2 separate regions of the Homo sapiens genome follow, and region 1 is linked to region 2. Evidence: fine-mapped expression QTL. A gene starts in region 2. The other region holds a variant in brackets. All regions are shown on one strand. Distances are from middle to middle.

The links. PIP is the estimated chance that this variant, and not a neighbour inherited with it, causes the effect.
Region 1: its variant is fine-mapped to the expression of TMEM225 in testis (GTEx, PIP 0.97).

The regions. Positions count from the first base shown.
Region 1 is chr11:123,830,939-123,846,570 of GRCh38, forward strand. It overlaps the pseudogene OR6M2P. Among named protein-coding and RNA genes, the nearest start is that of OR6M1, 32 kb to the left of the region's middle. RefSeq lists an enhancer at 9,791-10,990. The variant A/G (reference allele first, on the strand shown) is at 6,391.
Region 2 is chr11:123,877,420-123,893,051 of GRCh38, forward strand. TMEM225 (transmembrane protein 225) reads right to left here and starts at 8,251. Exons shown (of 4, transcript NM_001013743.3): 1 at 7,826-8,251; 2 at 7,071-7,217; 3 at 6,656-6,790; 4 at 5,501-5,933. The coding sequence starts at 8,006. The coding sequence ends at 5,719.

The DNA of each region.
Region 1 (15,632 bases), 46 kb before region 2:
CCATATACAAAAGTCACAGTGTGGCTCTCCCCATGCTGCTTTGCCTGTCCGAGTGGGAGCTGCAAGTTAGTACTGCCTCCTATCAAAAATCAACTCAAATGTGATTAAAGACCTAAATGTATGATCTGAAAGTGTAAACCTCCTGGACACAAACATAGGGGAAAAGCATTTTCAATTTGGTGTAAGCAATGATTTTTTAGTTGACACCAAACACATGGGCAACAAAAGCTCAGTTAGACAAGGGCAATTCATGAAACTAAAAAGCTTCTGCCTAACCATGAAACAATCAACAGAGGGAAGAGATAACTTATGGCTTGGGTGAAAATATTTGTAAACCATATATCTGACAAAGACTTAATAACCAAGGGAAAGTGGCAGATAGGAGGCAGGACTAACTTGCAGCTCCCACTTGGACGGGCAAAGCAGCATGTGGAGACCCACATTGTGACTTTTGCTCTAAGAACTACTGCAGGAACATACTAGAAAAGCTGAGAGAATCCACAGATTCTTTGAAGGAGGTGGGTTGCCACATCCATGCTCATGGATGGGTAGAATCAATATTGTGAAAATGACCATACTGCCCAAAGCAATCTACAAATTCAATGCAATTCCCATAAAAAATACTACCATCATTCTTCATGGAACTAGAAAAAACAATCCTAAAATTCATATGGAACCAAAAAGGAACCCACATAGCCAAAGCAAGACTAAGCAAAAAGGATAAATCTGGAGGCATTACATTACCTGGCTTCAAACTATACCATAAGGCCATAGCCATTAAAACAGGATGATACTGTTATAAAAACAGGAATATCGACCGATAGAACAGAATAGAGAACCCAGAAATAAAGCCAAACACTTACAGTCAACTGATCTTCGACAAAGCAAACAAGAACAGAAAGTGGGCAAGGACTTCACTCAACAAATGGTGCTGGAATAATTGGCAAGCCAAATGTAGAAGAATGAAACTGGATCCTCATTTCTCACCTTACACAAAAATCAACTCGAGATGGATCAAAGATTTAAATCTAAGACCTGAAACTATAAAAAGTCTGGAAGATAACATCAGAAAAACCCTTCTAGACATTGGCTTAGGCAAAGACTTCATGACCAAGAACACAAAAGCAAATGCAACAAAAACAAAGGTAAATAGATGAAACTTAATTAAACTAAAAAGCTTCTGCACAGCAAAAGAAATAATCAGCAGAGTAAACAGACAACCCTCAGAGAGGGAGAAAATCTTCACAATCTATACATCTGACAAGGACTAATATCCAGAATCTACAAGGAACTCAAACAAATCAGCAAGAGAAAAACAAAAAATCCCATAAAAAAGTGGGCTATGAATAGATAATTCTCGAAAGAAGATATACAAATGTTCAGCAAACATGAAAAAATGCTCAGCATCACTAATTATCGGGGGAATGCAAATGAAAACCACAATGTGATGCCACCTTACTCCTGTAAGAATGGCCATAATCAAAAAATTTAAAAAAATAGATTTTTGCCTGGATGTGGTGAAAAGGGAACACTTTTACACTGTTGGTGGAAATCTAAACTAGTACAACCATTATGGAAAATGCTGATTCCTTAAAGAACTAAAAGTAGACTCCTTAAAGAACTAAAAGTAGATCTACCATTTGATCCAGCAATCCCACTCCTGGGTATCTACCCAGAGAAAAAGAAGTCATTATACAAAAAAGATAACTTGCATATGTATGTTTACAGCAGCACAATTCGCAATTGCAAAAATATGGAACCAGCCCAAAAACTCACCAATCAACGAGTGGATAAAGAAAATGTGGCATATATATGCCATGGAATACTACTCAGTAATTAAAAGGAATAAAATAATGGCATTTGCCGCAATGTGGATGGAATTGCAGACCATCATTCTAATTGAGGTAACTCAGGAATGGAAAAGCAAACATTGCATGTTCTCACTCGTAAGTGGGAGCTAAGCTATGAGGACTAAGGCATAAGAGTGATACCGTGGACTTTGAAGATTCAGAGGAAAGTGTCGGAAGAGGGTAAGGGATGAAAAAAAATTCAGATCGGGTATAGTGTACACTGCTTGGGTGATAGGTTCACTAAAATCTCAGAAACCACCACCAAATAACTTATTAATGTAACCAAACACCACCTGTTCCCCAAAAACCTATTGAAATAAAAAAATGAGTTAATATCCGGAATTCAAACATTCAATAGCAAAAAACCAAATAACCCAATTAAAAATGGGCAAAGAATCTGGATAGACATTTTTCCCAAGAAGAGATACAGGTAACTAATAGGTATATGAAAAAGGTTCTCAACATCACTAATCATCAGAGAAATATGAGTCAAAACCACAATGAGATCATCTCATGCCTGTTAGAATGGCTATTATCAAAAAGAGAAGGGATGACAGATGTTGGTGAGTACGGGTGGAAAAGAGAAATCTTGTAGCCTGTTGGTAGAAATATAAATTGGTATAACCATTATGGAGAATAATATGGAGATTCCTCAAAAAATTAAAAATAGAATTACCAGATGATCTGGCATGCTCATTTCTGGGTATATGTCCAAAGACTTGAAATTAGATCTCAAAGAAACAGCTGTACTTTCATGTTTGTTTTATCATTATTCACAATACTCAAGGTATGGAAACAAACTAAGTGTCCACCAATGGGTAAATGGATAAAAGAACATGGTATGTAAATATAATGGAATACTTTTCAGCCTTAAAAAAGAAAAAAAAAAACCTCTGATTTTGCAAAAGCGTGAATGAACCTGTAGGAGGTGGGAGAGTATTATGCTAAGTGGGATAAATGACCATAGAAAAGGCCAATATTAAATGATCTTACTTACACATATGGAATCTAAAAAGGTCAAACTCACAAAAGCAGAGAGTAGAATGGTAGTTGCCAGGGGCTGGTGGTTGGGCATGAGGAAGAGTTGTTGGTCAAAGGGTACAAAGTTTCAGTTATGCATGATGAATAAGCTCTGGAGATCTAACGTACAGCATGGTGACTATAGTTCATAATACTGCACTGTATACTTGAAATTTGCTGAGAGAGTAGATCTTCAGTGTTCTTATCACACACCAACAAACAAATGGTAACGTGATGTGATGCATATGTTAATTAGCTTGATTGTGGTGATCATTTCACAGTCTATGTATTAGTGTTTCAACCACAGTCTATGTGTACAGTGTTTCAACCATTACGAAAACAGTGTGGAGTTTTCGTAAAGAACTAAAAGTCGGCCTACCATTTGATCCAGCAATCCCACTCCTGGGTATTTACCCAGAGGAAAAGAAGCCAGTATATGAAAAAGATACTTGAGCATGCATGTTTATAGCAGCACAATTCACATTGCAAAAATATAGAACAAGCCCAAATGCCCATCGGTCAATGTGTAGATAAAGAAAAATGTGGCATATATATACCACGGAATACTACTCAGCCATAAGAAGGAATGAAATGATGACATTTGCAGCAGATATTTAATATATATCAAATATAACATTGTACACCTTAGAATAGATACAATTTTTAATTGTCAATTACACCACAATAAGGCTGGAAAAAACAATAAGGAAACTATAGAAAAGATTTTTACTTTAAATCCTTATTTTTGGGTGTGCATCACCATATCCCCTAATTTAATCAATTGTCTTTTAACTTTTCAATATTACATTTGTGTATGACAGCGTGTTGTGCACAAGTGTCCAGCAGCCCCAGTAAACTTACTTTACCGTTCCCAGGCCAGTTTACCTATGCCCATACAAACTGGCTCTGTTCGCCTGTTGGGTTTTGTGCTAGGATATTTAGCCTCTCTCATCTCTCAGATTCATAACCCTGCTTTTTGCCATACACCATTTTGGTCAGCACTATATCTGCAGGGATTATGGATTCTTTTTATTTTATTTTATTCTATTTTATATTTTATTGAGACAGTGTCTTATTCTGTCTTCTAGGCTGGACTGTAGTAGCATGATCATGGCTCACTGCAGCCTTGAACTCCTGGGCTCAAGCATCCTCCCGCCTCAGCCTCTGGAGCAACTAGGACTACAGGCATGCACCACCATGCCTAGCTAACTTTTAAAATTTTCTTTCTTTTCTTTTCTTTTTTTTCCTTCTTTCTTTCTTTTTTTTTCCTTCTTTCTTTCTTTCTTTTTTTTTTTTTTTTTTTTTCTGAGACAGGTCTTGCTCTGTAGCCCAGGCTGGAATGCAGTGGTGTGATCTCGGCTCATTTCAACCTCCACCTCCCGATTCAAGCGATTCTTCTGCCTCAGCCCCTTGAGTAGGTGGGACTACAGGCATGCACCACCATGCCCAGCTAATTTTTGTATTTTTAGTGGAGACGGGGTTATGCCATATTGGCCAGGCTGGTCTCGAACTCCTGACCTCGTGATCTGCCTGCCTCAGCCTCCAAAAGTGCTGGGATTACAGGCATGAGCCATCGTGCCTGGCCACTTTTTTGATTTTCTTTGTAGAGACAGAGTCTCATTATGTTGCCCAGGATGATCTTGAGCTCCTGGACTCAAGCAATCCTCCTATCTTGGCCTCCCTGTTCTGGGATTACAGATGTGAACCACCCTAAAAAAAATAATCAGTTTTAAAAAAATATCAAAGCTAGTATAAATTGAGCGAATCTCTTGCGGTCCTTTTACAGGTTGAAGAGTTGGTGAAACATCAGGACCACTCATCTTTTATAATGATTCATTAAAATTTTAGTAGACCATGGAATACTATGCAGCCATAAGAAGGAATGAGATCATGTCCTTTGCAGGGACATGGATGAAGCTGGAAACCATCATTCTCAGGAAACTAACACAGGAACAGAAAACCAAACACCGCATGTTCTCACTCATAAGTGGGAGTTAAACATTGAGAACACATGGACACAGAGAGGGGAACAACACACACCAGGGCCTGTTGCGGGGTGGGAGGTGAGGGGAGGAAACTTAGAGGATGGGTCAATAGGTACAGAAAACCACCATGGCACATGTATACCTATGTAACAAGCCTACACATTCTGCACATGTATCCCATTTATTTTAGAAGAAATAAAAAAAAGAAAAAGAATTAGTAAATATTCCATCTATCTCTGCTTTGTTATGCCATTTTTAATTAGCCAGGCTTTAAGCAGTTCTTTTTTGATGACTGTCTAATTTTAGCCTTTTTTTTATTTGTGAGGGTGATTTCTTTTCAAAGGTGCAATTCTTTCAGGCTGCTTATTGGAAATAGAGCCCTATATTACTTTTGGAATTAAAAAAATATATCAACACTTCATAAGTTTGCCGTATGTTTTCTGTTTTTGACATTTTTATTTTACTTTAAGTTCTGGGATACATGTGCAGAATATGAAGATTTGTTACATAGTTATACACGTGCCATGGTGGTTTGCTGCACCTATCAACTCATCATCTAGGTTTTAAGCCCTGCATGCATTAGGTATTTGTCCTAATGCTCTCCCTCCCCTCACCCCTACCCCCTGACAGGCCCTGGTGTGTGATGTTCCCCTCTCTGTGTCCATGTGTTCTCATTGCACAACTCCCACTTATGAGTGAGAACATGTGGTGTTTGGTTTTTTGTTCCTGTGTTAGTTTGCTAAGAATGATGGTTTCCAGCTTCATCCATGTTCCTGCAAAGGACATGAACTCATTCTTTTTTATGGCTGCATAGTATTCCATGGTGTATATTTGCCACATTTTCTTTATCCAGTCTATCATTGATGGGCATTTGGGTTGGTTCCAAGTCTTTGCTATTGTAAATAGTGCTGCAATAAACATACATGTGCATGTGTCTTTATAGTAGAATGATTTGTAATCCTTTGGGTAATGGGATTGCTGGGTCAAATGGTATTTCTGGTTCTAGATCCTTGAAGAATTGCCACAATGTCTTCCACAGTGGTTGAACTAATTTAAACTCCCACCAACAGTGTAAAAGTGTTCCTATTTCTCCACAGCCTCACCAGCATATATTGTTTCCTGAGATTTTAATAATCACCTTTCTGACTGGCGTGAGATGGTATCTCATTTTGGTTTTGATTTGCGTTTCTTTAATGACCAGTGATGATGATTTTTCTTTCCTATGTTTGTTGGCCACATAAATGTCCTTTTTGAGAAGCATCTGTTCATATCCTTTGCCCATTTTTTGATGGGTTTTTTTTTTGTTGTTGTTGTTGTAAATTTAGTTAAGTTCCTTGTAGATTCTGGATATTAGACCTTTGTCAGATGGGTAGATTGCAAAAATTTTCTCCCATTCTGTAGGTTGGCTGTTCACTCTGATGCTAGTTTCTTTTGCTGTGCAGAAGCCCTTTAGTTTAATTAGATACCATTTGTCAATTTTGGCTTTTCTTGAAATTGCTTTTAGTGTTTTAGTCATGAAGTCTTTGCCCATGTCT[A/G]TGTCCTGAATGGTATTTTCTAGGTTTTCTTCTAGGGTTTTTATGGTTTTGGGTTTTACATTTAGGTCTTTACTCTATCTTGAGTTAATTTTTGTATAAGGTTTGAGGAAGGGGATCAGTTTCTGTGTGGCAGATGGGAATGGGAATGTGGAGTGGGAATGTGACCATTAAAAGAATACTCCATTCAGTTTTTCTCAGGACACCTCCCTCAGTTTATACTTTCAATTTCATAAATCCAAGGGTTTACAAAAATCTTTGGAGTATTTAATTATATTAATATTTTAAAAATAACCGGGTTCTTAAGATGTAGACATTTTCAAGGATTTGCATTTATCTTTATGGAGGAGGAATCTCAATTTAAGAATGTATTCCTTTAAAAAATTTAAAAAAATTTTTTTAACTTCAGTCTCTGCGCTAGTAAGAACGTATTCTTTATAAGTCTATTACTCAAGTGAACTCATGACAGTTTTTTCTCTTTAACTGTAAAATAAAAAGAAAAGTTTTAAATCATATCTCCTACTTGAGGAAACATCTGAACTTAACTCTCCTTCTAATATATATTTTATTGTTTATGAAAATTATGTTTGTTAATTTTTCCAATATTAAAATTGACATATGCTTCCCAAGTTTTAAAAGCTCCAAAATGTGGGAAAAAGAGATATAATTATAATCCCACTCTTCAAACAAAGTTATTTAAACATTCTGTATAGTGGATTTTCTTCCAGCTTTAAAATGACTTTTCAAAATAGGTGATTTGGCTTTAAGATTTTAAGAAGCTCTTAAAGGTATTACTGCTCATGATTAAAATGTATACAGTGTTTCAATGTTAAAGGTCTTTTTTAGCATTTTGTCACTACCACTTAATTCAATGTCATAACCATAGCAAAACAAACAATTTCTTAGATTTAGTGGAATAAATTTCCTCCTCGAGTGAAACAAATTTCCAGGTTGAAACCATAGTATAGCTTTCAAGAAAATGAATTCTGTTAACAACCCAAAGGTGTAGGAAATGGATTATCTGCTAGGGCTCCCAGGAAAGAATGCAGCCTGCTGACATTTTAGCCCGGTAAGATCTGTGTTGGGCTTCTGACCTACAGAAGTATGAGATAACAAATCTGTGTTGTTTTAAGCTGCCAAATTGGTGGGAATTTGTTATGGCAGCAATAATCACCTAATATGGTAACTTTTGATACCTTGTCTTAATTAGGCTCTGATTATAAGCACAGAGCAGAAAGTTACGGGACTCCTTCACTCTTGCTGACTTTGGTCTACCTTCTTTTTGTCTTTAAACATTTGTCCACTTCGTTATCTTATGATGGACTGTGCTCTCTTATAATACTCTGAATTCATTCCTAAGACAGCTCTTTCTTTACCTGCTCTTTGCTGAGAGATTCCATGCCAATTCTTAAGGCCCCTATCTTTGTCCACTCAGCTAGAGAGTCTGTCTTTTTCCCATTCCTACACTCTTTTTAGAGAGCTTACTCCCACAGCACCTACTTATTGGCATTGTGGACACGGTGATTTGATACCTTGCTGACTCATTCTTCTTACAAATAAGTGAATCAGAAGTGGAAATCTCTCTCTAGTTGGACCAACCATATCCTCCTCCCAGAAATTTGGATTTTGAACTCAGATCATTTTAAATATGTATCCACTTAAATTTAATACATATCAATACATTCAAATACATTCAATATCTATACCCTTATATATTGAATATATATCTGTAATTGAGTATATACATATATTTGTGAATGACAAAAGCAGCTATCTTCCATGTGCACAGAAAAGTGGAAAAAAACACTGCAGAGACAGAAAAGCAAATCAGGTGTATATTAGTTTCTTATGGCTGCTGTAACAAATTACCACAAACTTGGTGGCTTAAAACAACACTAATGTATTATTTTACAGTTCTGAGGGCAAGAAATCCAAAAACAGTTTCACTGGGCTGAAACCCAGGTGTTGGCAGAGTCATGCTGGAGGTTGTGGGAGAAAATCAGCTTCGTTGCCTTTTCTAGCTTTCGGAGGTTTATTTCTTGGTTTGTGGCCCTTTCCTCTGTCTCCAAAGCCAGCAGAGCAGCAGCATCAAATCTCTCTCTGCTTTCATCGTCACATGGCCTTCATTTTTGTAATAAAATCTCCTTTTGCCTAGCTCTTACGATGACATTTGGGATTACATGTAGGGCGCATCTGGGTAATCCAGGATAATCCCCCATCTCAAGAACTTTAACTTAATCACATCTACAAAAATCTCTTTGCCACATAAGATAACATTCACCGTTTCCAGAGGTCAGAACCTGGATATCTTTAGGGGCCATTATTCAGCCTACCACAAAGTATATGGAGAAAAATAATACAGAGAAATACAGCTACAGAGAGACCTAAGGAGAAATCAGAGACTTAAAGAGAAGAGAATACCTACCTTGGCTCCTTACAAATTTCTAGTTCCTTCTTTTTGTCACTTAGCAGGTTTTGATGTTTCTTATTTTCTGGGGTTCCATATGGCACTTTTGATTATTATGATAAGTACATAGTTTACTTAAGCAAGCTTGATTAGTTTTCTGATACTTTTTTTTTCCTCAACCAAATGAATGCTAAGATCATCTTCTGTATATGATGGCCATATTCGCCAGTTGCTATAGATGATCAGTCTAGACTCATGGTCAGTTATGGCTTCTGAATAAATAGTTTTCCTTTCAAACCAAATTGCCTCTCAGTCCATTCTAATTGTATCCCACTTCTGGTCTGCCTTGATCTGCAGGTCTGTCTAACTGTTGGCTTCTGGCTTCAGAAAAAGAAGGTAGCTTCCAGGCTAATTTGGTTTCCCCTCTTAAGTTTTCCTTCCACACTTTATAATATAGTGGAGTGCTAAAGGAGTCTGAAGTTCACATATTCTAAATTTCTGCCACTTACCAATGATGTAGTTTGGGGCAAGATGCTTAACCTCTGTAAACATCAGTTTTCTCATCTGTAAAATGGAGATAATGATATCAGCTTTCTAAGGTTATTAGGAGGAATAAATGAAATACATGTGTATATATTTAAGTATACTGTATAAACCCTGGATTATGTTATTGTTATTATTATTATTCCTTCCTTGCTATTGTTACTATTATTATATAATATTTAACTATCAAGGTTGAAGGCTTGCAACATCTGAAAAGAACTAGTAGAAGTGTTTGTTTTTAATTATATGTGGTTTCATTTCTTAGACCATCTTAGCTAAGCCTACAACAACAAAAAGAAAAAGCACAACGTCCCCATTTCACAGATGAGAAAACAAATGGTCAGATAGGCTAAGTGTCACTCGATAAAAAAAAAAAAAAAAAAGGGTGATAAAGCCAGGCTCAAAATTTAGGTTTTTTGATTTTAGTTTTGTATTTTTCATTAATCCATGATATTGTGAATGCACAGTGGTTCAATCATAGAGTTCAGGGAATGTCATTTTCTCTATGGCTGAATTGTCTCTTCTAAACTGTGACTACAGTACTTTGCCTCTGATGCGGCACTGAGCCTATTCATACCTTCCCATATGCCTTTGATTTTCTGGTGTCTAAATCTGTCTTTCTCCACACTGAGCTAGAGATGAAAATAACCATTCTGAGCAGAAAAGCTTGGTTAAAGTTTTAAGTTCTCCTGTGCCATGAGGACATAATTTTGCTGACTGCTTCTTTCAAGACTGCCTTTACCTTTTCATTTCTTAGACTATAAGTGAAGGGATTCAGAAGAGGGGTCACCATTGTGGGGACAGCTGTCACCTTGTCAAAACCCATTGAATGACTCTGGCTGGGCCTCACATACCTGAAGATGTTGCTTATATAAGCGATGGAAATGACGGTGATGTGGGAAGCGCACGTGGAAAAGGCCTTCCGACGTCCTTGGGCTGAGGGGATGTGCAGGATGGTAGAAATGATGTAGATGTAGGACACAGTGGTGAGCACCAGTGAGGTCAGGAGGATGAGGGAAGATAAGAGGAAGTTTATCATCTCGATGAAATGAGTGTCTATACAGGACACATGTAGCAGAGGGGTGATGTCACAGAAGAAGTGACTAATTTCCTTGTAACAGAAAGGCAATCTGGACACCACAATGGTTGGGCACAACACAGACAGGAAGGCTCCAACCCAGCAGCCCAGAACTAGTAGGAGGCAGGCCCTGCTGTTCATGATAATGGTGTAGTGCAGGGGGTCACAGATGGCCACGTAGCAGTCAAAGGACATCACTGCCAAGAGGATAAACTCCACTGTCCCCAAGAAAACAAAGGAAATAAGTTTGGGTGATGCACCCAGCAAAAGATATGGTCTTCTTGTCCTGCAGGAGACAGGCTAATAGCTTTGGGATAACTGAGGTGGTGAAAAAAATGTCCAAAATTGACAAATTACTGAGGAAGAAGTACATTGGGGTTTGGAGGCGATGATTCGCACATGTTAGGGAAATGATGGCAACGTTTCCTGTTAGAGTAAGCATATAAGTAAACAAGAGGACTGCAAAAAGGGAAATTTGAAGCTGCTGAAGAACAGGAAAGGCCGTCAGGGTAAACTCAGTCACTGTGGTCTGATTTTGGATGTCCACTGCAGGCAATGCCTAGTGGGAAGCACATCTCTGAAAAAAAAAAGATAAAATGCAGAGATGATGCTCAACTTACGGAAGTTTTCAACTCCCAATATCTGTGATAAGAGTGAAATAGAAAAAACTTTGTGTGAGGAGTCAAGAGTGATTCGTTCACAGTCTGCTTCTGACTTTATTAAATGTGGTCCCTTGGGTAAATGACATTACTTCTTCTAACTTCAGTATTCTCATATTTCAAAGTTTTGATTGAATGAAATTATCCTCATGGTCCCTATAATTCTAGTCTTTATGATTTTAGTCTCTTTTACACAATGCTCCTTCCTGTCTCTTTTTTGCTCTTCCTGACCTACTACTTTCCCAGCTAAATTCTGTTCTTAAAAAGAGAGGCATACTAAACTGAGAATCTGGTCAATTATTTGAAAAATTGAGAAAAAGAAGGTTAATAAAACTTGAGTTAGGCCCGGTGAGGTGGCTCATACCTGTAATCCCAGCACTTTGGGAGACCGAGGTGGGCGGATCACGAGGTCAAGATATTGAGACCATCCTGGCCAACATGGTGAAACCCTGTCTCTACTAGAAATACAAAAATTAGCTGGGCACGGTGGCGGGTGCCTGTAGTCCCAGCTACTCGGGAGGCTGAGGCAGGAGAATTGCTTGAACTCAGGAGGCGGAGATTGCAGTGAGCTGAGATCACACCACAGCACTTCAGCCTGGTGACAGAGTGAGACTGTCTCAAAACAAACAAAAAACAAAAAAAACTTGTTACTTTTCTCAAAGTTATTTCAACTTTGAAGATATCTTCTAAATCAAAGAACAGAAACTGTTAAAACTGGCCAAGACAGTTAAATCGAGGGGAGTCAACATTTACCTCTACTCATTTTTGTTATTGTTACCATGTTTTGAATATCAGTGTAATAGACAATTGGACACAAATTACTCTAATCAATCAGTCTTTCCCTACTTAGTTTTTCTTTGTTTTTACTTTATATAATAGAAATGTTTTGATGTCTACACTGTTATGGAACAAGTAGGTCCATGATACATAATTCATAATCTGTGTAACCTATTTTAAATATTTTGAAAAAAATCTGATGGAAAAATGATTATTTGTTGTTATTTTGTTGTTTGTTGCCATGTTACATTCATGGCAGCATCCAAAAGAACAACAAACGTTTCCCCTTTCCTTCTCCAACTGATTCTTACAGGTTTTCCCAAAGAAGTCTTTTATACACGGCATTTTTTTCCCAGCCATTTGAAGAGTAGGTTATTAATAATACTGCAAAAAAGTGGATGCCGAAACATGTATTTGATCTATCGAAAAGATGTATATGAAACACTCAGCTTAATCTCTGAATACTGCCCTGCTTCACCGAAGATCTGTTTCATGTCTATGTAATTCAGCTGAAGCACTGTCCTCTGGTATATTATTTTGTGACCAGTGCTCTAGTTTCAAGTTAAAACAACTAATTTATATCTCTGAACTAGGTAAATTTTTTAACGTGGTGCACACAGAATTCCTCTTTAAGGGAGGCCATTTCCTCAGACTCTCTACCTGGGAAAAGTGACCTGCCAGAAGCTGTTACTATTATTATTTTTTCATTTATTCATTCTTTTAATTAACACATAGTTTTCTTTAGCATATGCCGTGCATCATGCAAATTTTCAGGTGCTGGAGCTATATCAGAGGAAAACAAAAAATATAAAGCAAAAACAAAGCAAAAATGTTAACAACAAAAAACTTCCCTTATGAAGCTTACAGTATAGTTAAGAGAGACAGAAAATTAGATAAATAAGTAAAATAAATGCTATGATCTTAATTGTGGTAAGTCTCAGAGCTAAGACATTTTTTCTAAACATATTTCCATTTGCAAATCTGGCTGTGACTTTTTCTGGTTCTTGTAGTTGCTTCTTTATTTTTATTCACTACTCATTTTTTCATGAATCAAGGTATCCTTGTTATTTTAATAATTATCTTCATCTTCTCTGTTCCATATAAGAACATTCTGGTTTCTTATAATTTTTTCACATTTCTAAGCTGTTGGTAAGTACACTTTACAAATGCATAGTGGTTTTTGTCTATTTAAGAGTAATTTTCAAATGAAAGTGGCATGGAATAACTTGACTTGCTGTTGAGCTTAGTAGCTCTTTTTACTTCCTTAACATCCTTGGTCCTGGTTTCTGAATCCATGAGTATTGGTCCTCTCCATATTCCTTCCCAGTCTAAATATTTCTTTTGTTTTTCATGAGGTCAGACGCCATATCTATTTCATACCTCATCCTTTGAGCCCAGAAGGTGCTCATTGATTTACTAAATAAATAAATCAGAATTGGGGAAGCTTCTCCCTGAAGCATGAGGTTGCAGCTGCCACAAGGGTAAGCAATGGTAACCTCTATAGCTTGTATTTTCACATATCCAGTGCAGACTTCTATCACATCCTGTACTTTCTTGGTGTGTTTTTCTTTGCCCAGTTATCAGGATCTGTGTAGTTTTGGAAAACTGCTTCCTGCAATATTAATGCTGGGCTTGGGAAGAAACCCAAACACCGCAATGCCTAATCAAGATCTTTCGTAGTTTAGAGGTGGGAGACAAACAAAAAGGTGAAATTCTATGATAAAAAGAGAAGTTTACATTAGTAAAGTGCATTATTCCACTTCTTCTAGTAATTTTTTGAATTGTTACAAGGTGGGCTGTTTAATTAGATTTTAAGTTATTAAAGAATTCCAAAGAGTAATATCTATTGAAATAGGCTCTTGGCACCAATAGAAACTCTTTTTACCACAAATACTCTAATGTTCTCTCCTCGCTCGCTCTACTGCTCTTTTGCCCAGACAATAAACTTCTAAACTATTGGCTACAGCACAAAGAGCAAAAACTATATCTGGTTAGGCAAGTAATAATGTTATTGAGATAGAATACAAAAATAGAATAGAGCACACTATGTAGACAAGGAGAAAAGCTTTAGAATTCCCCTGCATTTTCCCCTTCCTCTCTTCATCACTGATAACACTGAAGACTGACAGATATCTTAAGGCAGAATAATGAAGATTTTCATACCTATCATCCCATTGTTCAATGCCTATCATCCCATTGTTCCTTTCATTTGTCTAATTTCTTTACAACATCCTTAATGTCTTACTTTTTTTTTTTTTTTGTTGCTAGGTAGTCTTTTAGGACCCTGATAGGAGCTTGATTTCCCTCTGGTATTTTAAAAATTGAGCAACTCAGGCTTTTCAAAAGCATTATACAATTTTTAAACAATCAAAATCTGTGGTGGTTGAAAACAAACAGAGTTGTTATTTGCCATGATTGTCATAAAAAATTATCACTATGGGAAAAAAAAATGGTATTGCGAGCTTTCTATTTTGCTATACTTTGGGTCAAATGTACGTCTCTGAGAAGAACTGAATACGTAGCATCTCTCTCCTTTGTGGAGCCTCTTAACTTCTGAAAAGAACATGGCCTTTTTAAGGTTATCTCAGGGCCCTGAGGACCTCATCATATCTAGGAAGGAAGGCTCTGGGCTCTCTGGACTGTAAAGACCTGTGTGTAACAATTTAGGCTTTCATTTTTGGGGGCATTTGTTCCCTCATTAACATTTCTGTGGATCCTTAGAAAATTGCGTAAAATTGCACATTTAAAGATTCAAGAATTAGTCAGGAAAATGTGGCATAATAGGAAAAAGTGTAGCAGGTTTTAGAATCAATGATATGCTATATTTTTAGTTTAATCACTTGTAGCTTTATGATCTTTTAATAGGATGCTTAAGCATCCTGAGTTTTATCTTCCTCATCTCTAAAATGGCAAAAGTAGTAATACCAGATTCAAGGTCCTAAGACAGTGCCTACCACAGTGATTTATACCTAGTAGGTGCTCACTAAATGTTTCTTAAGAACATAGGGTTGGGAAAGGGTGAACAGAAATGAAATAAGATGTGATGCAGGTTGGGGATTAGATGTAACTTAAGTTCTTTACTATCAGTAAAATGTAAAAATGTTTGTTACTGAAGTATATTAAAAGATTTAATTACATACTTAGGATAAAGATATAACATTTGACACCCTCCCTCATAAAATATTTGACAGAATGGTAATTACATTTTAATTTATAAAATTACCCATAAACAAATTTAAGTGACACTTAGATTGTTTGACATAAATACAGATAATTACATGACAAAGTATACTTACATTACACTGCTTGTAGAACGATTGGTAATTTCTTCATTCAAATATGTTAAGAAATTTGAACTTCAAGTATTTTTTTCCTACTCCATATCATTCATTATTCTTTAAATGCTTTCACTGCTCCAGTTTTGAATTCTCTATAAACCTACCTCTGTTTTAGCTGAGACTCCTCCTTATACCACACTTAATCCCCTTTGCAGAACCATACCGAATGGTTATTCAATTTTGGCTGGAATACTCCATCTGTCTTCCCTTGATTGAGAAGCTATCTTTTTATAACCTCTAATTACTTTTCTCAGTTCTTTTTCTTAGTCCCATTGAAGAAGTCTAAGTCTTGATTTATACTAAGTCCAAGTGTTATACCATTATTTAATCATTTCATCCTGCATATCTAGTGTATCTCAAACTTCGAATAGTCCTCTGAGTTTCAAGGACTACATTTTTGCCAAAAGAATTTTGATTTGGTAATGAATCAAGACATTAGACAC
Region 2 (15,632 bases):
AGCTTCTACCTCTTTTTCTGACTCTAGGACGTGACATGTCCTTTTCTCTATTAAAATAGGCCATTAATAAACTGTGACATTTGAAGCTCATGCTTGCTCTTAGGGATTTGATTGAGAATGACTCTTGGGAACATTGAGTGAAAGAGGTTAATTACTATTGTTGTAATCAAAGCATTTTAAGCCTGAAAAATCAGTCACAATTACGAAGTTTAGTGGGAAATGCCAAATAGACTCCCTCGGGACTCTAGGGGAATTGTTCCTGCTGTTTTGTTTTATTCAGTTAATGAAAGCTTGGTGGCCTGCATTAGAGCATTGTGGAAACTGGAAACATGAAAACTTTTAATCTTTCTAAATGTTTGACAAAATTAAGTCATATTTTTCTTTCCTAAGAATGCTGCAATAATGATCCTTCTAATGGCCTGAAATAATAAACGTACCTTTATTTCTCTGTTAAAATGCAGATAAACTCTTCTTATTTTTGCAAAGATCTATAAAAGGTAACTTTCTCCATATTTATATTAGTCTATACCTAATCCTTATACTAGCCTAAAGCCCTAAGGTTGATGAATTAGAGTGATGACTAGATGTAAATAAGTGAACACAGATATTTTCTAGATTTAAAAAGTAATCTCAAAAAGATATGGGATCGACACCTTCCAAAGCAGCCAGACATGGAATGGAGAGGTGGTCAATTAACATTTCTCTCTGACAGTGTATCCTGTATGTGTTCTTTGCATTGTGGCTCTTAGCGCCTCTATTCAAGGACACAAATTCAGTCTTTGGGACCCATCAATTTCTTACTATCAAAGCCTTGAAGCTTTGACATTTCTATCTATTAAAAGCCAGAGATTGCTGCATTAACTTAAGCAATTCAAATATAGTTTGTTTACTTGAGGCACACCTAATACAGAAGCAGAAGTAATAATTGAAAAATAAAAGAATAGAAAAGGGATACTAAGCAATTCAAGTGTAGTTTGTTTATTCGAGGCACACCTAATACAGAAGCAGAAGTAGTAATTGAAAAACAAAAGAATAGAAAAGGGATATACAAAGCAAACATTAAGCAACATTGGTAGATTGTATTATTGTTCCATCATTATGCACCCTTCTTTTTAATAAGAGGGATTGCATATCTCCACTTACACATATCATGGGATTACAGGCATCAGCCTCTGCACCCGGTCAGGTATGTCCTTCTTATAACAATCCTTCAGTGACATGAAAGCTACATTTTCTTTCCTTTCTTTTTTTTTTGAGATGGAGTTTCCTTCTTATCACCTAGGCTGGAGTGTAATGGCATGGACTCCGCTCTTTGCAACCTCTGCCTCCTGGGTTCAAGAGATACTCCTGCCTCAGTCTCCTGAGTAGCTGGGATTACAGGCACCTGCCACCACACCCAGCTAATTTTTGTATTTTTAGTGGAGATGGGGTTTTCCCATGTAGGCCAGGCTGGTCTTGAACTTCTGACCTCAGGAAATCTGCCCACCTCAGCCTCCCAAAAGTGCTGGGATTATAGGCGTGAACCACCGCGCCAAAAGCTACATTTTCAATGTGAGATTAAAAGGTATTTAGCAAAAAGTACATTTTTTTTATTTGCTGGCATAACTTCAGTGATAGCTTCACAAATTTGTTCTTCATTTTATATTACGATCCTTTCACTTAATTCATTTATCTTGAAATGGTGAACAGCTGCAGTTGCAAACCTCAATCTATGGTACATATAAAGCAATTCAACTTTTTCTTCTAACTTCATGACTTTGCCTCTTGGGAGCACTTTCAGCATCACCAGTGGCACTTCATATGAGTCCCATGGTGTTATTCAAGATTTACTGTATTGCACTAAGCATGAAAATATGCAAGAATCATGAGAGATTACTTTTTACTGTGATATGCAATTTACCAGAAAGACAAACTGCTCACATGGATATGATTAGTGTCATACCGTTTTCAGTGGATGGTCAACACTTGAGCTCAACGCAATAGCAACAGAGGTGGCTACAAAATTATTACAGTAGTACAACATGTACTACAGTAAATTTTATGCAGTTATTATTTAACACTGCTTTTTTTGTATTTCTCTCAATTGCAACTGGTACTACATATTGTCTGTGTTTGTGTGCATGTGTTGATAAATTTTAACTTTTTTATAACAGATTTGTGTATATAATGTGGTAGTAAATAATAAAATAGACTAGTATCTACAGCTGTTATGCATTCATGACACACGCAATGTTTTCTAATTTTTTTGATATTTCTAGTCTATGCAGCTTGTCTGCAAGAATTTTCAAATTGTCACAGATTTCCGAAATATTTTGCAACATATTTATTGAAAAAAATCCATGTATAAGTAGACCTACATAGTTCAAACCTGTGTTGCTCAAGGGTCAACTGTAATTGAAAAGAATAAATATTTACAATCAGTAATTTAAACTTCCATTTTAGGAAACTGGAAAAAGCAGAGTAAATCAAATCCAAAATAATCAGAAGAAAAAAATTAGAGAGGTCAATGAAGTTGAAAACAGGAAATCAGTAAAGAAAATTAAAGAAAACCAAAAACTGGTTTTGCAAAATTATTAGTAAAATTAATAAACTTCCAGCCAGGCTAAGTAAGAAAAAGAAGAGAAGACACAAATTACTAATATCAGAAATGAAAGAGGTCATATAACAACAGATCCCATGGGGAGTAAAATAATAATAAAATAATTTTGTGAACACCTCTGTGGCCACAAATTTGATAACCAATTCTTTGAAAGAAACAATGTGCCACGACCAACATAAGAACAAACAAACACTCTTCATAGGCCTGTATCTATTAAAGAAATTGAACTAATGATTAATAACCTTCCAAAATAGAAAGCACAAGGCCCAGATAGGTTCTCCTCTGAAATGTGCTAAACATTTGAAGAAGAAATTATACCAATTTTCTATAACCTCTTCCAGAAGACAGAAGCAGAGGGAATTTTAAACATTCTATAAGGGTAGTGTTACCCAAAACCAGACAAAGACATTATAAGCAAATAAACTACAGAACATCTCTCATGAAGGTAGATGCAAAAATCTTCAACAAGATATTTCACCATTGAAAATCAACTAATGTGGCCCATCACATAACAGGCTAACAAGGAAAAATCACATGATCATATCAATAGATACAGGAAAAGATTTGACAAAATCCAAGACTGGTTTATAATAAAAACTCTCCCAAAACAAGAAATAGAGGGAAACTACCTCAATCTGATAAAGAACATCTAGAAAAAAATTGACTTAAACATCATACTTAATGTTGAGAAATGAGAAGCTTTCCCACTAAGATCAGGAACAAAGCAAATATGTCTCCTCTAATCGCTCCTTTTCAACATCATCCTAGACGTGCTGAAAGTGCAAGAAGAAAAGAAAATGTATACAAATTGGGAAGTCATAAATAAAACTTTTTGTTCACAGATGACATGATTGTATGTATAGAAAACCTGAAAGATTAAAAAAAAAAAAAAAACCCAAGACTCCCGGATACAGGTTAATGTATAAAAGTCAATTGCTTTCTTATATGCCAGAAATGAACACGTGAAATCTGAAATGTGAAAAACACAATCCCATTTACATTAGCATCCCCCAAATTAAAATACTTAGCTATAAATCTAACAAAATACTATAGTGCAAAAGTAATTGTGGCTTTTTGTCGTTAAAAGTAATGGTTGAAAACCGCAATTACTTTTGCACCAACTGTAATAAAATCCACCAGGAAAATTACAAAACTCTGATAAAAAATCAAATAACTCAGTAAATGGATATATATTACATATTCATGGATAGGGAGACTCAATATTGTCAAGATGTCAATTTTGCCTAACTTATTCTACAGTTTCAACACATTCCAATAAAAATCTCAGCAAGTTATTTTGTGGACATTGACAACTGGATTCTCAAGTTTATAGAGAGATGAAAAAGACCCAGAATAGCCAACATAATATTTCAGAAGAACAAAGTCAGAGGACTGACATTACCTGATCTCAGGACTTACTATGAAGCTGTAGTGATGAAGACAATGTGGTTTTGGTGAAAAAAAAAAGACAAATAGATCAACGGAATAGAACAGAGAGTCCAGAAATAGACCCAGGAGCAAAGGAAATTCAATGAAGGCTTTTCAATAAATGGTGCCAGAACAACTGGACATCAACATGAAAACAAAGAAATCTGAACACAGACCTTATACCTTCCAAAAAAATTAAATCAAGATGAATCATGGAAATAGATAAAACTAGAAGATAAGACAGGAGAAAATGTAGATGAATTTGAGTATGATGATGACTTTTTGGTAGAACACTGAAGGCACAATAAGAATTAATAAGCTGGACTTTATTAAAATTAAAAACCAGTGTGCTACAAAAGACGTTGTCAAGAATGAAAATACAAACCACGGGCTGGGAGAAAGTATTTGCAAGACATATCTGATAAAGGACTGTTATCCAAAATATACAAATAACATTTAAACACTCACCAAAAAAATGAAAAGGCTGATTACAAACAGGGCAAAAGAATGGAACAGATACCTCATAGATGCCAAGTAACCATATGAAAAGATGCTTTTCACATTATAAATCACTAGAGAATTGCAAATTTAAACAATAAGACACATTCACATCTATTAAAGTGGTCAAAATTCACAATACTGACAACATCAAATGCTGACAAGGATGTGGTACGGCAGGAACTCTCATATATTGCTGGTAGAATGCAAAATGGTATAGCCACTTTGGAAGACAGTTTGGAAGTTTTTTACAAAACTAAACACATTCTTCTCATATAACCCAGCAATCATGTTCCTTGGTATTTACCCAAAAAAGTTGAAAGCTTATGTTCACACAAAAACCTGCACACAGGTGTTTATAACAGTTTTATTCATAACTGCCCAAACTTGGAAACAACCAAGATATCCTTCAGTAGGTGAAATAGATAAACCAACTGTGGTACAGTCTTACGATGGAATATTACTTAGCCCCACAAAGTATGAACCACAAAAAGGCATGAAGGAACCAAGTTTTACTTACATAGATAGATTCAGGAATTCTAAAATAATTAGAAGATTTATTTCAGCAATTTATGAAAATAAATACAACATGATCTCTACAGTGTAATATTGATCAACTTTCAAACATTTGAAAAGCTGGTCTATATAATTTTTATAGATGTATAAATTTGTAGTGAAAATGTCAACATGAATGTAGAATCATCAGCAACGCATCCTTAAAAGTGTTTTATGATAGGAAACAAGAGATGGAAATGAAATTGGAGAAGTTTTTAGAGGAACATCAGTTATATCTATAAATTTAACGGAAAAACTTCTCCAGGAAATAATGTTAAAATTTTATAAAGTTGGGTTGATGTGTACATAGGTGTTTGATCATCATTTTGTATTTCTTATGTATGTTTGAAATATTTCACAATACAACTGTTATATATCATTATAAGTGTTTGTGATGTATAGACTTAACAATACAGAAAGTATTATTTATATGATAATATTTATTATATTAACAACAAATGTTGCAGAAGAAACTATTCGTTCAGCAGGCCAGGATTTTTTAAAAAACCATCTTCCAGATCTTTTTACAAACCCCAACCATAATTCCAAATAGAGACAACATGGTTGGAGACACAGCACACACCCACAAAGCTTTTTCCATAAAGATGAGCATATACTGCAAGAAATAGATTGCCAAATCACAGAGCCCAGGTTACGTGACGTGTTTGGACTTTTTTGTTTAGGGAATTCACAGTGTGTGCACGGACAATGCTACGAGGCATTGCAGTGCATTCTGGTAATGAAATATCTTCGATAGAATTCTCAGATTCCTTACATTCGTTGTCAGATTTATGGATGTTCAGGCAGGTACAGCTACTGGTAGACAACTTGCACTCTAGGAGAGAGAGGACTCCTAGGGAAAAGAGATTCCAGGGAGTGGGATGAAGGGACAATGGAGAGTCAGAAACAATTCTCTCCAATTTGGCTGAAGACCCTGACCCAAAGCCCAGTGGATCCCTTTTAACTACCGAAAGCCATCTGGGAGGTGAATGCTTTAGTGGAAGAAACCGGAAGTGTATGTACAATAGCTTAAATTCTGCTCAGCTTAAGAAAATTGAGGATTCTTTTTGAAAGAGAACATGCTTCTTTTTGGGTTAGGAAGTGTAATTACAAATGAAATTTTAAAGACTTCTTAGGAAAGGGGAGACTTCGGTTTCGGTAGATGGCCATCTAGCATCAGATGTTGTTTCTCTCTGCCCTCAAACTGCCTTGACACTACACTGTACTCCCAAGGTCACTGTTCCTCTCCACAGAGGCTGAGCATTCTGTCTCAGACACCCACCTTGGTCATGACTTTGGTGGTTATCTCTGCCCCAAAGCGGGGAGGGTGTGAAAGGCAAATAAAAGGCGGAGATGGGGAGCTACCCTCTGAGGCCAGGCACAGCAGACATCTCACATAGGCCTGACCTCCCACTCTTCTTGGAGGAACTGTCATCAGAGAATGAATCCAGGTGAGCTGCAGCCTTTTAAAATGCAAGGTTTGGCACTTTTCCCTCTATTCTCATCTTTTTACCCTTCCCTCTGTCGGGGATGGATTGGTTCTTAACACCCTTCAGGGGCCCTGGAGACACTCACCACAGACAGACAAGAAGAAAACATTTAAGTAAGCAGTATACATGATCCAGGTGATCCTATAACTAGAGAAGTGCATGGATTGACCTTGCTTCAGCTTATTGTGATATAGTATGAGTGCCCAGAGCAGAGAGATACCTGATGTCCAGACAAAAAAAAAAAAAAAAAAAGAAAAAGAAAAAAGTCCCTTCTGAGGAACTTTGGCTCCTTGATGCAAGTCTTCATTCCATATACACTTGACTTCCCAACCCCCACCCGGTCCAACTACACCTTGCCCAAAGACTGATCCTGATCCTGCTTTTATGGTAGATCTAACTCAGAAGCTACATATATATATATATAGTTTTCAGAGACTGCAGCCTGAACCCACCCATCAAAGTACACCTACAAGCTTGTGTTAGGGGAGCCAGGAAGTTACCTGAGAAGAAACTGAGGATGGTAGTGAAGAGTTGTATATATTTATTTTGAGGAATCAGATAGGTGAATTTCATACCCAGGATTAAGTTAAGGAGGAAGGAAAGGCCAAGGCTCGACGTCATCATAATCCTGACCACTTTCAGGTCATCTGTTGGAAAGCAAAAGCTGTTTTGAGAGGACAGATATTTCTTCTAGACTCATTTCTACCTGGGGTCCAGAAGTCTCTAGGTGAAAATTGGAATAGGGTGAAAGATTTGATTAAACAATAAGAAAGAAGTTGGAAAATAACAAGCAGGGGAACCTTAAGCTGAATAAGAGAACCAAAAACATTTTCTCTATCCTGATGTCTCTCTATGTGTCTTTCTCTTCTATTATTTTCTTCAAACTCTATTCTTGTTAAATACCGCAATTCACTCCATCATCTAGTGGCAATACAGATTACTTAATGCCAGTTACGTTTCTTTCTTACCCACATGTCTAGTTGTGTGGATCACCCTGCTGCTACTGCTGAGACTTCTCAAATGCCCAGCAGTTAAGGCTGTGAACATATAAACTTTTCTCCAGAACACCTAAATGGTGAGATTTTGGAATCTGCCTTGACTGTATTGACTATGGAAGGAAGGAAGAACACTGCAACTTGAGAAGCTGCACCAGAAAATAATGGGTACACTGGTGAGATTAATGCAAGTTAAGGAAAGCCAAGTTAAGGACACACCCTTCCTTTCCACCCGTCTCTTTCTAGAGTACAGTTCTGACCTTCTGGCCAAAGAGCAGGGCAACACATCATCCAAGGACTGTGGTTCATCTTGGCTCTTTCATCTTCTGAAATCAATTCAACCCATTTATCTAAGGTGATTCCCATCACCATTAAGACTACGGCCCAGGAGGAGAAAAGTATGTTCATACCCTGGATACTTCTATTTGAAACATGCACCATTGTGAGTGAAAATTTCTAGCTGGAACCACCACCACTATTTTGTAGATCTCTTCCTTGATTTGATTAGTTACAAGAAGGGTGATATCTGAACTTTCAGTGGTTGCTGAGGCATTGGTAACAGCAGAAGCTGAAGTAGTCTATAAAACAGAGAAGATAGATAACTCTCACCCTTCCTCACTTCCGTTATCTATCAGGGCCAGCCTGCTGTCAGGACTGCCAACTGCCATGGAATCATCTATTGGTTTGACCCTTGACCCTGGGGCCTAGTGGAGTGAAAGAACCAAGGGGTCCAGAAGTCCTGAGAGAGCTATCAGATATAGGGATCTGACATCACATGTAGAAAGAGCTGTCACATACAGGGATCATTAGAGGCCTTGAATTAAGTTAGACGTGCATGACTAAAGAGGTCCAATTTAGGAGTTAGAATTACACGCTCCAAGATTAGTTAACATTTTGTAGGGGCCAGTGAAGAGGAAAAGGATTTCAAGATCATTGAGATAAATAGTTAGCTAGCTAGTATCACAACAGGGAATGACCACTCAAAATTTAGGATGTTTGAAGAAATGTGTGTTCCCATTGGGAGGTCCCAGTGACATTTAGTTAGGGAGTCATCCAGGAAATAAACCATCATCCTGAAACCAAACTACTGGCCTGATAGATACACTGAGCCATTATAGCCCAATCTCATTTATAAGGCATGGACAATCATTTCTTGACAGAATTGCCTCTAACTTGGCATATAAAACAGTTTTCGATTCCTTGAGTAGGCAAACATGGTAGGCCTCAGAGTCAAGAGCTAGAGGACTTCTGCTACAATCCAAAAAAAAAAAAAAAATTTGCCTTTTACACAACTAAGATGAACTTCATCTCCAAAGGCCTCACTCTGCGTATTTTCTGACCTCAATGCAGGTGACTTTCCTTGGCTCAAAATAGACTTTTTTTTATTACCTCAAACATGTCAAGCTGTCTTTCTTCTAGATCTCTCTACACATCTTTGTATACTTTATTATTATTATTTATCGTTTTCATTTTTAAGCACAATACTCAACAATACACTTAATCTTATGAGGAAGGCTTTAGGGTTAAGAAAACGGACTAAGGATCCTGGTTTTAAATTGTAGCTCTACCACTCAGTAGCTGTGTGGTCTTAGAGATAATAATGCTTCCTACTACCTAGGGATTTTGTAAAGATTAAATACGTTTAGAGACATAAAGCACTTGAAAGAGTCCTTGGCACATAGTATATGATCTGTCAGCAATTACCATAGTATTAATTTGGGTTTTCTGGGAAAAGGCTCTGAGGCAGGAATTTGTATCCAGGGAGTTTTTTTGTGAAGCACTTTTGGGAACCACACCTGTAATTGTTTAAGGGAAGCAGGTTTGAGCAGAAGTTGAACTGAGGTGTGGGTGCAACAGAAGAAGCCCTGGCTGACCCCACGAGGTGCTCTGGCTCTGGGGTGGTCCTTCAGAGTCATTCTTTATAGAGGCAAGAATGCCTAGCCTTTACACTGAGCATCTGGCTGCCCCTAGGGTGTGATTTCCCTTCTTTCTCAAGAGATATTCCTAAATCTCCTAGAAACTGCAAGCCACAGCAGCTAACACTTCTGGTAGCTGTGGGGATGAACTCCCACCCTTCACCAATCCCATATCAGGGTCAGCTTGTTTTTAGGGTTGCCAGCTGCCATGAAATTAACTATTGGTTTGACCCTTGACCCTGGGGCCTAGGGGAGTGGGGGGACCAAGAGGGTATATGGGAAACTCCTATTATGCTCTTTCATGTTGATAATTTTATTTCTATGCCATCGATTCTTAAGAGTAGAATTCCTGTGCTGAAAGGCTTTTGTTTCATTTTGGTTTTAACTGGTAGTGGCAGTAAAGATTTAAAGATGTAGCCAAATTAGAGAAAGAGATAGGATGTGAAGGATGAGTAAGATACATGTCAAAAAGAAATCAAGTTTTTAGCTAGGGAGAACTAGTCAAAGATTCCATTCCAGATGGCATTCCAGCTGCCATTCCACCTGCCATTCCAGCTAGTCAAAGGTGCCATATAGTAAGCACTGGTCTGGTTAAGCTGAAGGTGCTTAGAACAGGCAATATACAGAAAAAATTTACTTCTGGAACTTGACAGGAGATTAGAGGGTTATCAACCTTGAATGAGATTGGGTGCATTCAGGGAGTAATAGACAACGGGTTATCAGACTTGAGATAGCAATTGAAACCTAGATGTGCATGTCACATATGCAGAAATATCACACAGAATGTGATAAGAGATAGAAAAGGAAAGGCCACTGGATTTGGCAATTAGAATGTCATTGGTGATTTTGGCCATAGCATTTTCAGTAGAATGATGAGAGAAGTAGTAGGATAATTTTTTTTTCTTTTAACAGGTGACAAGAGCAAATAAATAATGATAAAGGGAAAAAGAAAAATAGCATTGTAGCTTCAAGGTGAAATGTGCGATTTTGAAAATAGACAGTAGTATAATGACTTCCCATGTATCCTTCATCCAGCTTCAAAGCTCATCCTCTGAATTATTCTGAACCAAATCCTGACATAATTTTATGGTTAAATATTTGTGTCACTAGAAGATGAGGATTGATTTTTTTTTTTTTTGCTGTAGATTCACGTACTCTGTTTTTTCTTAATATGGTTTATTATCAGTTTTGTTGGTCTTTTCAAGGTCCATTTATTTAGGTATTTATCCATTTGAAAATATTATTTTCAAGATCATATTTCATTATTTTGAGTTATTATTTTTATTATTTTCCTTTTGTTTTTGCTTGTATCCCTTGAACTTCTTAAAATAGTTTTAAATTCTTTAATATGTGTAGACTTAGGACCATATATTTGTCTTTAGGCACTGAGTTTGCTATATCTCATACGTTTCCTGTAACTTTTTTTACTATTTTGCTTCTTATTAGACAGTGTTTAATTTTAGGTTTGATTTCACCAAGAATTCAGGGATTGTCTGGGAGAAATTCTTAATTACCAAGCAGCTATCAATTTTAGATCACTGTTTAAAGTTTTTTTCCTTTGTTAAAAATAAATTGTAATAAATATACCTTGCCGGGCATGGTGGCTTATGCTTGTAATCCCAGCAGTTTGGGAGGCCAAGGCAGGCAGATCACGTGAGGTTGGGAATTTGAGACCAGCCTGGCCAACACGGTAAAGCCCCGTCTCTAATAAAAATACAAAAATTAGCGGGATGTGGTGGTGTATGCCTGTAATACCAGCTACTTGGGAGGCTGAGGCAGGAGAATTGCTTGAACCCACGAGGCGGAGGTTCTAGTGAGCCAAGATTGTGCCATTGCACTCCAGCCTGGGCAACAGAGCAAGACTCTGTCTCAAATAAATAAATAAATAAATAAATAAATATACTGAAAAATTTATTTTTTGAATTTGTCAAGGTTTCCTTTGTGGCTGAGCACATGATTAATTTTGAATATTCTGTCAGCAAACAAAAAGGTAAAATTCTTATACCAATAATGAAATTTATGTGTGATGGAAGGTTATATAAATCAGTTTTTTATTGATTAGTTTAATTCTTCTGTGTTTTAATCTGCCAGGATATGTCCTATTTTGAAATAGCTGTGTCGACATCTGTCTTTATGGCTATATAGTTTGATTAGATCTCCTATTCCATTGCATTTTTGTATTGGTTATAATTTGTATATACAAAGTCTCATGGTTTTGGTATGTTAATTTTATTCCTACTGAATTCTTACCAAATTCTTGTTATTCTGTTATTGAAAATTATTTTTTATATTCTCTGAGGTTTTCAAGTTATGATTTTATATGTTCTTAACAGAGATTTATTTTTACCTCCTTCTTTATAATTTTTATGCCTCTAATTGTTTCTGCTTGGTTCTTCCATTTGTCAGAGACTTGTATTACAAGGTCCAACAGTAGCAGCAATAGTAGGTTTTTTTGTCCTTGTCCTACCTTAATTGAAACAATGTTTCTCCATTATATAATACATGCTTCATCTTTTAAGAAAGTAGCAATTGATCCCCATCTCATCAATTAAAAAGAAAACAGATTAGGTGTTGAATTTTGTTAAATGATTTTTTGGTATCTGTGGAGAAGAATGTGTAATTTCAAATTAGATCTATTAAGATGATGAATTATATTAATGCATTTCCTGATATTCTGTAATTCTTCCATTCTTGTAATAAACCTCACTTGGTTATACATATTATTTTTAAATGTTCAATGAACGTTACTTTTAGTACCTTTGCCCTGGTGGGTATAGTAAGGTAAATTTTTAGGAATGGACAATCAATATCAGGTTTTAAATCAGTGTTATGTTCATTCCAACATAGAAAGATGGAAATGTTCTTTCATTTCCAATGCTCAGTAACAGTTTGCAGTATTGGACTTACTAGCTCTTAGAGTTGTGGTAGAACTCTTTTGCAAAACCCTCTGTGCCTATGCTTTTATGCATCGTAGCTCATTGGTAACTTTTCCCCATTTCTTTTATGGAAAATTATGTGTTTAAACTCTCTATAGGGGTCATTTTTTATTTAAAAATTTCAATTTTTTATTTTAGTTCTGTTAGTTTCTGTTTTACACCTACATAATGCTTACCTATTTTTATTCTGAGTTTTAAAAAAATAAACTGTTTAACAGACTTTGGCAATATGTTTTCTAAAATCATGTTCACTGAGGTATAATTTACAAATAATAAAGTCCACCCTTTTAAAGTGTACAGATAGATGAGATTTTGATAAGTGTGTGCATTTACGTAACCACTATAATATTTAATACATGGAACATGTCTATTATCTTGAGACGTTTCTTCATGCTTTTTGGTGGCCAGCCTCTTCTCCCACCCCTACCTTCTGGTAAACATTGATCTGATTTCTGTTTTTATAGGTTTGCCTTTTCTAGAATGTGATATAAATTGAAATCATGCAAAACATAGACATTTTGATCATCTACTTTGACTTGCAAAATACGTACTTTCCAGATGCATTACTTTGTTGGGTATATGGGTAGTACATTCCTTTTTATTACTGAATGGAATTTCATTGGATGATTATACCACAATTTGTTTATCATTCTCCTGCAAATGGAAATGTTGGCTTTTCCAGTTTTTGGCTATCTTGAATCAAGGTGCTATAAATGTTAGCATGTGGGTCTTCGTATGGGCATTTGTTTTCATTTTACCTGGGTGAATACTAAAAATGAGATTGTGTGGTATGTGTATTTTTAGCTTTGCAAGAAAGTGTTAAACTGTTTTCCAAAGTGGCTGTACCATTTGTATTCCCTACAGCAGTGTTTGAGATTTCCCCTTGCTTCATATCCTCATCAGCACTCAATATTGTTAGCCATTTCAATTTCAGCTATTCTCATAGATTTGAGATTTGATTTGTGGTATCTCACATTTTGGTTTTGATTTGTATTTTCCCTATGACTAATGTCATAAAGAATGTTTTCAGGTGCAAATTCATCATCTTACATACATTTTCTGGTAAAGTATGTGTTAAAATATTTTGCTCAATTTTTGAAATATTTGTTATTTTATTACTGTAACCTGGACATTTTTTTTGTTCAAAGTGTTCTTTTATATCTGAAATTATTTGTTCAATTTAAAAAATTTATGTCAGTTATGCGTTATAGTTTTTCTCTGCTTTATTGGCTATTGCTAATGTGTATGCATGTATGTTTATGCATGTATGTGTATGTGTATGCATGTATGTGTATGTTCTATCATTTGCTCAGAATTTTTAATTTTCATCTTCTGTTTTGAAAATTATAGTATCTTTTTATGCATGCTATATTTTGACTTTTTATGGATTTTTTTTTTTGCAACAATGGAGGCAAGCCAATGAAGGAGGTGGAAGAGGAATTTGTGTGGCTTTTCAAATTCTCAGATCAATAGGACCCTTGTCCTATTGAAACACGATTCAGATACTTTGTTTTTTTCTATCACATTCCAGACTCCACGTGACTCATTAAACTTCCTAGGTCCCTACCTTTTCTCTAGTAAAGCACCTTCTTGGAACTTTGGTCCTTTGAACTTTACAAGCAACTTCCTCTTGTTTCTCCAGTAGCCAGTACTCTGACCTGTCAGATCTCAGACATCCTCTTAGTATTGCCTGTTCAGAAACGGCTCCTTACTTGCTGATGGGGAACCCTAGCTGCTGTCATCTGTGTTTTACAAAGACGATTGGTTGTTGAGGGGGCAACGTTAGCATCAAGAGGCAAAGTGCTATACCATTGGTGTACTAAGTTACAATAAGCTCAAAAAATGTAACAAAAACATTGTAGAATGTGATATAAATTGAAATCATGCAAAATATAGATATTTTGATCATCTACTTTGACTTAGCAAAATACATACTTTTAGCAAAATACATACTTAGCAAAATACGTATTGCCAAATTTATTCAGTAATATATAAATGTAACCAGTCAATGACCCTACATCCACTGTTATATAGATTCCACTGGAATCTGTATAATACACTCCAGACCTAACTCTAGGCTTCCCAGGATTGGTGAAGAGAAAACTGAAGGCAAACATTTACAAAAAGAACTTATAATCCACTTCATCCAGCAATCACAGTCTTGGATTCAGCGTTCTGCCTTATATGATGTATTTCTTCCTATTGCCCATATTTAGTCCTTTCATTTTCTGCTCAGAGTGATCTAAGAACTCAACACTGAGTGATACAGTTTTCTCTTGCCAGTGTAGCAATCAATGTAGCTTTGTTTTAGCCTCATTTGATGTCCTTTTTTGTTTCCTTCTGACAAGATCTCAGTGGAGTTCAGCTCTCACAGCAGTAGACTGATTAATAAGGAGATTCTTTCATGACCTCCAAAAGAATTATTCACACTTTTGTCTCTTTAGAGAGCTGTTAGTTGTGTTTCTGCCTTAGAGAGAGCAGATGGCTGGATAAGGAGTGGATGTGTGAAATACACATATTTGACAAGGAACTAGTATCCAGGATACATGGAGAATTGCTTTAAATAAATATGAGAAAGGCTGCTCAAGAGAAAACTGGATAAAACACATGAACAAGACATGTCACAAAAAGAATATCCAAATGTTCAATAAAGATATAAAAATGCTCATGCTTATATATCATAAACAAATGGAAGATAGTACAGAAATGCTGAGCAGGTTAGTGGGAAATGGACTCAAGATGAAGAATTATGAAAAAAGACACGGCCAGGTGCGGTGGCTCATGCCTGTAATCTCAGCACTTTGGGAGACCGAGGTGGACAGATCATGAAGTCAAGAGATCGAGACCATCTTGGCCAACATGGTGAAACCCTGTCTCTACTAAAAATACAAAAATTAGCTGGGCGTGGTGGTGCATGCCTGTAGTTCCAGCTACTCGGGAGGCTGAGACAAGAGAATAGCTTGAATCTGGGAGGTGGAGGTTGCAGTGAGCCGAGATCGCACCACTGCACTCCAGCCTGGTGACAGAGTGAGACTCTGTCTCAATAAAAAAAAGAAAAAAAAAAAAAGAAAGACTTGATTTATGTTTCATAGCAATTTTAAGAGCTTTGGAAATATAATTTCCCCTAAGATACGTCTGTAAACAGTTTTGATGAATGTAAAATATTTCCATACCTATCTTATGTTTGTTCTTTTCAGATAAAATTGAACTCAGAT